2 separate regions of the Homo sapiens genome follow, and region 2 is linked to region 1. The links come from fine-mapping of genetic effects on gene expression. A gene starts in region 1. The other region holds a variant in brackets. All regions are shown on one strand. Distances are from middle to middle. Region 1 holds the start of GFPT2 (glutamine-fructose-6-phosphate transaminase 2). Region 2 has its middle 70 kb from the start of CNOT6.

Region 1 (5,373 bases):
TTTTTGTTTTGTTTTGAGACAGTCTTGCTCTGTCGCCCAGGCTGGAGTGTAGTGGTGCAATTTTGGCTCACTTCAGCCTCCACCTCCCAGTTTCAAGCCATTCTCGTGCCTCGGCCTCTCGAGTAGCTGGAACTACAGGTGCACATTACCACACCTGGCTAATTTTTGTGTTTTTAGTAGAGACGGGTTTTGCTGTGTTGCCCAGGCTGGTCTCGAACTCCTGGGCTCAAGCAATCCCAAAGATCTCAAACTTTTGCCCCCCAAAGTGGTGGGATTACAGGCATGAGCCATTGCACCCAGCGTGCCTGGCTTTTTTTTTTTTTTTTTTTTTTTTTTTTTACTTTTTGTAAAGATGGGTCTCCCTGTTGCCCAGGCTGGTCTCCAACTTCTGGCCTCAAGCAGTTCTCCCACCTCAGCCTCCCAAAGTGCTGGGATGACAGACCCAAGCCACTGTACCAGGCCAAGTTCATCTTTTCTGCTGGTTTCCCTCATGTGCTGGAGCAGGTCATCAACGTCCCAGCCTGGGCCATATGCTGACCTCTGAACCACTGCCCAGGCTGTGTGGCCAGGCCCAGGCCATCAACCTCCCAGATGACTCTCAGAGGGTTCTCAAAGCAGGAGTGATGCTAGGCCGGCAGCTGCTACAGACACATCCCCATGGGTGGTAGTGTGCACTCATGCCGTTCCTCACCGTGGACCTGTGACTCCTCCAGGAGGATAAAGGACAGATTTGGACCCTGCTAAGACCCCAGGGCTCCTGGGGTCTTGGTGCTATCAGAGGGCCTGTTGACATCACCCTGTCCCCGCCTCAGTTACAACAGTGGAGGCCAGTCTGGGCCAAACAACCTGATCTCCACATTCAAGTTCTAGCCCTCATCCAGGGGACCTTTGCACTGCCTGCTGCTCCCTCCTTCCTGGCTTCGCTAGGCTCTGGACCACCTGCACCAGCGCAGCCCTGCCCAGTCCCAGGCAGAGCCTGGCACCCTCTCCACCGCTGGCCCAGCCCCCTCCTTGTATCCTACCTGGAATTTTTAGCTCTCTGTGTAACCACGAGCTTAGTGTCTGCTTCCCCTTCACTTGTAAGTGCCAGGAGGGCAGGGCCAGATCTGTTCTCATTCATCAATAAGTCTCTTGCACCTGCACCCTGACAGGTGTGAAGTGGGTTCTTAGGAATGAGAGAAGGAAGGAAGGAAAGCGACCCTGCATAGTGGAGGGTTGGGGGCAAACGCTGCGGCTCCTGAATCGCTCTGAGATTTCCCAACAACAGGACTCACCCAAGCCCCCTCCTTCGCTGTCGTGGAGCCTCAGTTTTCCCAACCCTCCAATGGCACAACCTCCTTCCCCCAGGGCTTGCAGAGTCGCGGTGAAACTAGGGAGGGATTATGTTAGAAAAATGCTCTAGACGAGATGTAAAAATCTTTTTTTTTTTACACGACTGAGGAGGATCCGTTTAGAATTTCAGGATTTTTTTAAGAAAAAAAAAAACTTCAAAGTGCGCAAACGTTGGGCCGGTTCTCGTGACCTTCCTCGGGAGACGAGGGGCCCAGAGTGCAGGGGGAACGGGAGGGACGGCCGGGAACCAGGGCGGAGAAACGCGGGCCTTGGTGCCTCACTGGGGGGTCGGATTCCGACCCCAGGCGTAGGAACCCCCGGGTCCCTCGCGGGCCTGCAGCGCGAGGCAGATCTGGGGAGGGGGCAGCTCGGCGCGGGTGGGGTCGGGGCTTCCTGGGGCGCCTCCAGCTTCGTTCACAACCTGCGGAACCCTCGCCTTCAAGCTCGGGCTCCGCGGCAAATCCCAGGGTCGAATTCTGCCACCGCCGCGGCGTCCGGTTTTGGCAGAGTCCTTGTCTGCCTCCGGGAGCCTCGGTTTTCTCGTCTCTCCGCCAAGCCCGGGCGTTCTCTCCACGCAGGGTGAGGGCCAGGCTTAGAGGTCTGCGGAGCTCTGAAACAAGCCTGTCACTCAGATGGGAGCGCGGCAGGAACAGCGGCTCACGCGGGTTTCCGGAGCGCGCGAGTGATGCCGGACCCCTCGCTCTGCCCCTTACGCGGCCCGTCTGACTTCTCAGCACCCCGTGGGAGGGAGCTTCCCTGGGTAGCCCCGTTTCACAGACGGGAAAGCGGAGGCACAGCGCGATCGGGCCCTGCCCGGCTTCCACGCCTACTCTGGTTGAGTCGGGGTCTGAACTCGGGCCGTTGGTTGCCCTAAGCCCCGCTCCGGGATCTGGCGCCCGGCGCCCCAGCCTTACACGCCCGACCCGCGCCTGGGAGCCGCCCCTCGGCCCCCCTCCCTGGCTCCTGGGGGCCGGGTCCCGTCGTTGTCACGACAACCGGGGGCCAATGGGAGCAGGCGGGCGGGGGAAGCCCCGCCCCTTCCCCGCCCCCTTCCCCGCCCTCTCGGAGGGCTCCGGGTTATAAGGGCTGGAGGCCGAGCGGACGGGAGCTGGAGCCCGCGGAGCCCACGGAGCCCACGGAGCCCACGGAGGAGCCCACGGAGGAGCCCCAGCGTCCGAACGGGCAGACCCCCTCGAGCCGCGAAGGAGCCCGAGAAGCAGCCACGATGTGCGGTGAGTGCCGCGCCCGCCCGAGCCGCCTCCTCCACGCCGTCCGCGGGTCCCGGCGCCGCAGCCTCTCCGCGCCTCCGCCCGCAAGCAGGCGCCGAGGACCTGGCTGGGGGCGCCGATCTGCCCCGGGCCCCTACCGAGGGGCTGTCGTCGGCCGGGCCTGGCTGCCCCTCACCCGCGTTCCCCGAGTGGCCGTCTCGGAGGTGTGGGTGGGGGATGCCCAACCCGACTCCTGGTCTCGGACACAGTGAGGGGGACCGAGGCCCGGTCCCCACGGAGGGGAGGGACCTGGTCCGGTCCGGCCTGGACCCCGTAACAGAGGGGTCCCCACCCCATGCCGACCGAGGTCGCTCTCCTCCACGTCTCCCAGTCGCCCACAAAGGCGGCCACGCGCAGGCCGGCGCATCCCGAGTGCGGGGCGCCCATCCCGACTCAGCCCGCCGCGCCCACCGAGGAGAGGAGAGGCGACCCCGCCCCGCCGTCCCCGCAGCCCGCCCGGTCGCCCCCGCTGCGTCAGTGCCTCAGGCAGGGCCTGCGCGTCCTCCTCGCGACCCCAAAGGAACGTCTGGTCCCTAGAAGGGTCGCTGCCGCGTTACCGCCTCTTTGCGCGGGGAAGAGGCAGTCACTGCCCGAACCTCGGCCCGAAGCCACGAGAGGGAGTCCGGGGCGGGGAGCGGGGCCGGGCGTCCGATTCCCGCGGCGCTCCCGCGCTGTCCCGCGTGGCTGCGGGACCGTGGGGAGGGCGGCCGCGGCCCGGAGCGCACATCTGCAATTCTTTACTCTCCTGGCTGGGCCGCCTCCGCTGGCCGGGAGAGAGCCGGGAACTTCTGCTGGGACAAAAGGTCACTGTGCTCTTTTTTTTTTTTTTTTTTTTCCTTGAGTAGGATTCGGTTACCCATTCCAGCCTCCTGTGGCTGGAGGACCTGGAGGAACTTTCGAAGCCATGAAAGGCCTCTCTCTGACTTTGCTGAGGGCCGGGGTGGGGTGCGCCCGCGGTGAGCCCTGGCCGAGGTCTGTGCAGGCCTCTTGTCTCGGAGGCCAGCTGCTCGGCAGAAGGGAACGACCTACGGCGGAGCGGGCAGCGTGCTTCGGGATGCCGCCTCACCCAGGCTGAACAGGCATCCGTGGAAATTCCTGAACCCTCAGCTAAAATCTCGTGCTCCCAGACGCCATTCTCCATGTGTAGAGCCACCTTTGGGTGTTTCTGGGGGCAGAGATGAGGCAAAGGTGGTAGTTTTGCCAGATGTCCAAGCCCTGATGTTCCACACCTCTCAGTGTAGCATTCAAGACCCTTGGCCAAAACTGGTGGCCTTGGGGCCAGACTTGTGCAGGAGACCCTTGAACCAGGAGGGTCTGCCCACAGCACCAGAGGCTCCCCTTCCCCTTCCTTTCAGATGCTCCTCTGCCCCCACTGCCACCCCTGCCTGTCATCCTCCTTCCTACTGGCATCTTGCTTTTTCCCAAGTCTCTCTGAGCTTTGGGGGGGCTCTACCTCCTCCAGCTCACAAAATCACAAGTGTTTTTGTTCTGCTTCTTAAAGGGACACACACGCGTTGTCTCCTAGGGAAAGGTTGAGCTTTGGGGTGTGACCACCTGTATCTTCAGATTTTCTGGTACTGACTTGTGGTTGTATGTGAGAAGGAGCTTGAGGTCCCCAAAGGACACCCAGGGCTCAGGAGTGGCTGCGGTCCATGGGGGTGCCCACTCGGAGCCAGAATCAAAGAGTGCGTGCTGGCTTAGGTGCCTTCTCAGAATTCCCAGATTTGCTGATTTGGGGCTGGGGGCAGGGTGGGGGAAGTGGGGAGGGCACAGCTCAGCAGGAAGTCGTGGAATCCCTGCATGGGAAAGTTATTTCCTTTTCAAGAACATCAGGAGAAAGTTTCAACTTGGTGCTAACGTGTCCTTAACATCTCTCTGACACTTGCTTAAGTATCCTGTGCAGAGGGGAAGCCATTCCTGGCTCAGAGCAGGCAGCAGCAGCTGGCTAGAATTGAATACATTGGTCTGTTTGGGGGGGATGATGGTCTGAGTATGTATGACAAGTGATACTGATTTTCCTTTTATGGTTGTTTTCTTTTGGCATGAATTCATTTAAATTTTTGAAAATTTAATCAAATTCTGCAGAAGAAAAAGTAGTGATTATGCTATTAGTACAAGGATACTGCAAGAATCGTGAAGATGCTCCTAGAAAGAACCAGATAAGCTCTTCACTTTACGCTGGGGAAGCTGAGGCCCTGCGAAGTCTGTGCGCACCTGGCGTCTGAGCAGGCCTCGGGTCTCAGATCTCCTGGGCCGTTCCCTCAGGGGCGGAGACCTAAGGCCCTTCCTTATCACTTGGCTGATGACACTGCTGAGATTATGTCTTGCTGTCCTTTATCCTGCTGCTTCTCTCATGGGAAGCCAGGACTCGGCAGTAGTTGATCCTCTACAAACAGCAGATGATTCTCAAAAACTTTCAGTGCACTGAGAATTTAGCTGAAATGACACTTTGGTTTTATTGACATCTGAAAGTTGCTGGCATTTTGCTGACTTTCTGCGACAGAAAATTTACAATATTTCCTCCCTGTCTCTCTCCTTTCCTTCTCTGCTTCCTTTTTCATTCAGCCACTAGTGGAAATGCCCAGTGTTTTCCAGGCCCTGGGGGACTCGAAGATCTCATGGGTGTGGTCCTCCCCTCAAAGAAGGGGCAGGTGAGCCGCAGGGCTAGTCCAGAGACTGGTCACCAGCAGGGACGGGATGCCGATCAGGGCAGTGCTGCTGTGGAGGGAGGACCTTGAGCACGGGCTACAGCCTGGTAGAGTACTGGCCGAAC
Region 2 (5,373 bases), 71 kb before region 1:
ATACATTATATGTGATATATACATTATATATGTATACATTATATATAATATATATATTATATATATATATATGCCGGGCATAGTGGCTCACGCTTGTAATCCCAGGGCTTTGGGAGGCTGAGGCGGGTGGATCACGAGGTCAGGAGATCGAGACCATCCTGGCTAACAGGGTGAAACCCCGTCTCTACTAAAAAATACAAAAAATTAGCCGGGCGTCATAGCGGGCGCCTGTAGTCCCAGCTACTCTGGAGGCTGAGGCAGGAGAATGGCGTGAGCCCTGGAGGCAGAGCTTGCAGAGATAGCACCACTGCACTCCAGCCTGGGCGACAGAGCGAGACTCCGTCTCAAAAAAAAAAAAAAAAAAAAAAGAATCAAAGAGGAAATCAATAAAATTGAAAACAAAAAAAAGAGAGACCTATAAAATTGGTAAACTTCTAGCCAAATTGATTAGAATGAAAGAGAGGATACAAATTCAAGAGCAGAAATGAAAGAGATTATAGTACTACAAATTCCACAAGTATTTGAAGGATGATGAAGTAATATTATAAAACAATCGAGACCTGGACTGGCATGGTGGCTCACACCTGTAATCCCAGCACTTTGGGAGGCCGAGGCGGGCGGATCACGAGGTCAGGAGATCGAGACCATCCTGGCTAACACAGTGAAACCCCGTCTCTACTAAAAATACAAAAAATTAGCCGGGCGTGGTGGCGGGCACCTGTAATCCCAGCTACTTGGAGAGGCTGAGGCAGGAGAATGGTGTGAACCTGGGAGGCGGAGCTTGCGGTGAGCCGAGATCGCTACACTGCACTCCAGCCTGGGAGACAGCGCGAGACTCAGTTTCAAAATATATATAAAATATATATAATATTTACATTATAAGTAATATATACATTATATATAATATGTACATTATATATTATATATTATATATATTATATATATATATAGGCCGGGCACAGTGGCTCACGCTTGTAATCCCAGGGCTTTGGGAGGCTGAGGTGGGTGGATCACCTGAGGTCAGGAGGTCAAAAGCAGCCTGGCCAACAGTGAAACCTCGTCTCTACTAAAAATACAAAAATTAGCCAGGCGTGGTGGTCGGTGCCTGTAATCCCAGCTACTCGGGAGGCTGAGACAGGAGAATTGCTTGAACCTGGGCGGTGGAGGTTGCAGTGAGCTGAGATAGCACCATTACACTCCCACCTGGGCAACAGAGTGAGACTCCATCTCAAAAAAAAAAAAAAAAAGAAAAAAAAAAAAGAAAGAAAGAAAGACATATTGTCTATAAATTTGAAAGCCTAGATTAAATGCACAAATTCCTTGGAAGCCACAGACATTAAAAATGACTCAAGAAGAAACAGATAACTTAAGTAGCACTTTGTTTATTAAAGAAATTAAATTCGTAGTTACAAACTCACCCACAAAGAAAACTCCAGGCCCTGGTGCTTTCACTGGGGAATTCTACCAAACATTTAAATAAGAAATAATAACGATTTTACACAAACAAATCCATAAAATTGAAGTGAAGAGAATATTTCCCAGCTATTTCTATGAGGCTGCTATTATGCTGATATCAAAACCGAAGACAAGGCTGGGCATGGTGGCGGGCACCTGTAATCCCAGCTACTTGGGAGGCCGAGACAGGAGAATTGCTTGAACCCAGGAGGCAGAGCTTGCAGTGAGCCAAGATACTGCGACTGAACTCCAGCGCGGGAGACAGAGTGAGACTCCATCTCAAAATAATAATAATTATCATCATCCAAAGACATTACAAGAAAAGAAAATTAAGGACTAAAATCTCTAATGAATATAGATGAATTTTTTAAAGAAAAGTTTATAAAGATTAACTTATAAAGATTAATACATTATGACCTATAGGGGTTTATCTCAAGAAGGCAAGTTTGGCTTAGCATTCATTCAAAAATCGAATAAAATATGTCATGTTTAGTGGGTTGACTAGTGTCCCTCAAAAATGTATGTTGGCTGGGCGCAGTGGCTCACGCCTGTAATCCCAGCACTTTGGGAGGCTGAGGCAGGTGGATCACCCGAGGTCGGGAGTTCGAGACCAGCCTGACCAACATGGAGAAACCCCATCTCTACTAAAAATACAAAATTAGCTGGTGTAGTGGCACATGCCTATAATCCCAGCCTCCCGAGGGAGGCTGAGGCAGAAGAATTGCTTGAACCCAGGAGGTGCAGATTACAGTGGGCAGAGATTGTGCCATTGCACTCCAGCCTGGGCAACAAGAACGAGACTCTGTCTCAAAAAAAAAAAAAAAAAACAACTGTGTGTCAGCCGGGCACAGTGACTCATGTCTGTAATTCCAGCACTTTGGGAGCCTGAGGTGGGAGGCTCGCTTGAGCCCGGAGTTTGAGATGAGCCTGGGAAACATAGTAAGATGCTGCCTCTACAAAAAATTTAAAAATTAGCTGTGTGTAGTGGTATGCACCCGTGGTCTTGGCTACCTGGGAGGCTGAGGCAGGTGGATTGCCTGAGTCCAGGACTTTGAGGCTGCAGTGAGCTGTGATCGTGCCACTGCCCTTCAGCCTAGACAACAGAGCGAGGCCATGTCTCAAAAAAAAAAAAAAAAAAAAAAAGGTCATTTCCACCCAGAACCTCAGAATGTGACCTTATTTGGAAATAGTCTTTTTAGATGTAATTAGTTAAGGATCTCAGATGAAACTGTCCGGAATTTAGGGTGGTCCCTAAGTCCAATGACTGGTGTCCTTGTAAGGAGAGAAGTGACCACAGAGGCAAACAAGAAGGGCCGTGTGAAGGTGAAGGCAGACAGAGATCAGCGCTGCGCCACCATTACCCAGGGAAGGCCTGGGGCCACCAGACGCTGGAAACAGCAGGCAGGTTCTTCCCTGGAGCTTTGAGTGAGCATGGCCCAGCTGGCACCTTGATTTCAGATTTCTAGCCTCCATAACCATGAGAGAATCAATTTTTGTGTTTTAAAGACACCAAGTTTGTGGTAATCTGTTACCATAGGAAACTAGTACACCATATTAAGAAACTAAAAAAGAAAAATCATATAATCACCTCAATCAATTAAAGAAAAAGCATTTGACAAAATCCAACATCTACTCCTGATAAAAAACAAGTTTCAGCAAACTAGGGA[G/A]CTTCCTCAACCTGGTAAAGAGCGTATGGAAAACCTCCAGCTAACATAATATTAATACTGAAAGGCTAAATACCTTTTCCTACAACCAGGAATGTGGCAAAAATATTCACCCTCACCACCTCCACTCAGGATTGCACTGGAGGCTCTAGCCAGTGCAGTCAGGCATAAAAAAGAAATAAAAGTCATCCAAATTGGGAAAGAAGAAAAAAACAATGGTTTTATTCACAGATGGCATGATCCCCTATGGAGAAACTATGATGAAATCTACAAACAAAACAAAACAAAAAAAAACCCTACTAGAATTCATAACTGGGTTTAGCAAGATTGCAGAGTTCGAAATAAATATACAAAATTAATTATATTTCTACATATCAGGATTGAAAAATGAGATATTGAAGTTAAAGATAAACATCATTTAAAATAGCATTAAAATATGACAAATCTGAGAAAATATGTGAAAGGCCTGTGTATTCACACTACAAACCATATCTGAGAAAAATTAAAGACTATCTAAATAAATGGGGAGATATACTTCACTCATGTGCTGGAAGATTCTCTATTGCTAAGATGTTTGCTCTACCAAAGTTAATCTACAGATTCAGTGCCATCTCAGTCATAATCCCAGGAAGCTATTTAGTGAAAATTGACTAGGTGATTCTAAAATTCTTATGGAAATGTGAAGGACCTACAACAGCCAAGATAGCTTTTGAGAACAATGAAGGACTAACCCATACCAGATTTCAGGACTTTTAAACTTACAATGATCCAGACAGTGTGGTTATCAGCCTGAAGATACCATCTTTTCAGTTATTTGAGAATTTTTTCATATTTCATTTTAATTTTTTTTTTTTGAGATGGAGTTTCTGTCTTGTCACCCAGGCTGGAGTGCAATGGCACCATCTCGGCTCACTGCAACCTCTGCCTCCCAGGTTCAAGCAATTCTCCTGCCTCAGCCTCCCGAGTAGCCGGAAGTACAGGCGTGCCCACCACGCCTGGGTAATTTTTGTATTTTTAGTAGAGATGGGGTTTCTCCAGGTTGGTCAGGCTGGTCTCGAACTCCTGACCTCAGGTGATCCACCTGCCTTGGCCTCCCAAAGTGCTGGGATTACAGGCGTGAGCCACTGCGCCTGGCCTCCATTTTAATTTATCTATATGCTTCTGACATATATCTTTTTTATTTTATTTATTTATTTATTTAGACAGAGTCTCGCTCTGTTGCCAAGCTGGAGTGTAGTGGTGCCATCTCGGCTCACTACAACCTCCACCTCCCAGGTTCAAGTGATTCTCCTGCCTCAGCCTCCCGAGTAGCTCTCGATCTTTTGACTTCCTGATCTGCCTGCCTCAGCCTGCCAAAGTGCTGGGATTACAGATGTGAGCCACCGCGCCCAGCCTGTTTCTGATATGTATCTTTGCATGTTTTTTAGTGATCACACTAGGGATTGTGATTTGTATATACAACTTTTCACTGTCTGCTCAGAATCAACATTTTGACTTTAAATAGAATACAAAGACCTTCACCACACCCTCTCCTTTTACACCGTAGTTGTCTTATGTGTTGTATCTATTTGCATTAGGAGCCCCACCAGGTAATGCTATAGTTTATTTATTATTTATATGTTATTTATTATTTCTATTTTATTATTTATATATTATTTATTTATTACTTGGTATTTTACTTTAAGTTCCAGGATTACCATTTGACCCAGCGATCCCATTACTGGGTATATACCCAAAGGATTATAAATCATTCTGTTATGAAGACACTTGCACACATGTGTGTCAGGCCTCTGAGCCCAGGCTAAGCCATCATATCCCCTGTGACCGGCACCTATACATCCAGATGGCCTGAAGCAACTGAAGATCCACAAAAGAAGTGAAAATAGCCTTAACTGATGACATTCCACCATTGTGATTTGTTTCTGTCCCAACCTAACTGATCAATGTACTTGGTAATCTCCCCCACCCTTAAGAAGGTTCTTTGTAATTCTCCCCACCCTTGAGAATGTACTTTGTGAGATCCACCCCCTGCCTGCAAAACATTGCTCCTAACACCACCGCCTATCCCAAAACCTATAAGAACCATGATAATCCACCACCCTTTGCTGACCCTTTTCGGACTCAGCCCGCCTGCACCCAGGTGAAATAAACAGCCTTGTTGCTGACACAAAGCCTGTTTGGTGGTCTCTTCACACGGACGCATGAAACAATATGTTTACTGCAGCACTACTTATAGTTTTTTATTATTTCTTTA

What was found.
Region 2: its variant is fine-mapped to the expression of GFPT2 in cerebellum (GTEx, PIP above 0.99). The same link has a PIP of 0.9 or more in cerebellar hemisphere.

What each region holds. Positions count from the first base shown.
Region 1 is chr5:180,350,402-180,355,774 of GRCh38, reverse strand. It overlaps GFPT2 (glutamine-fructose-6-phosphate transaminase 2), which reads left to right and starts at 2,439. Exons shown (of 19, transcript NM_005110.4): 1 at 2,439-2,564. The coding sequence starts at 2,558. RefSeq lists a silencer at 2,183-2,412 and an enhancer at 3,785-4,285.
Region 2 is chr5:180,421,258-180,426,630 of GRCh38, reverse strand. No RefSeq gene overlaps it. Among named protein-coding and RNA genes, the nearest start is that of CNOT6, 70 kb to the left of the region's middle. RefSeq lists an enhancer at 2,291-2,790. The variant G/A (reference allele first, on the strand shown) is at 3,123.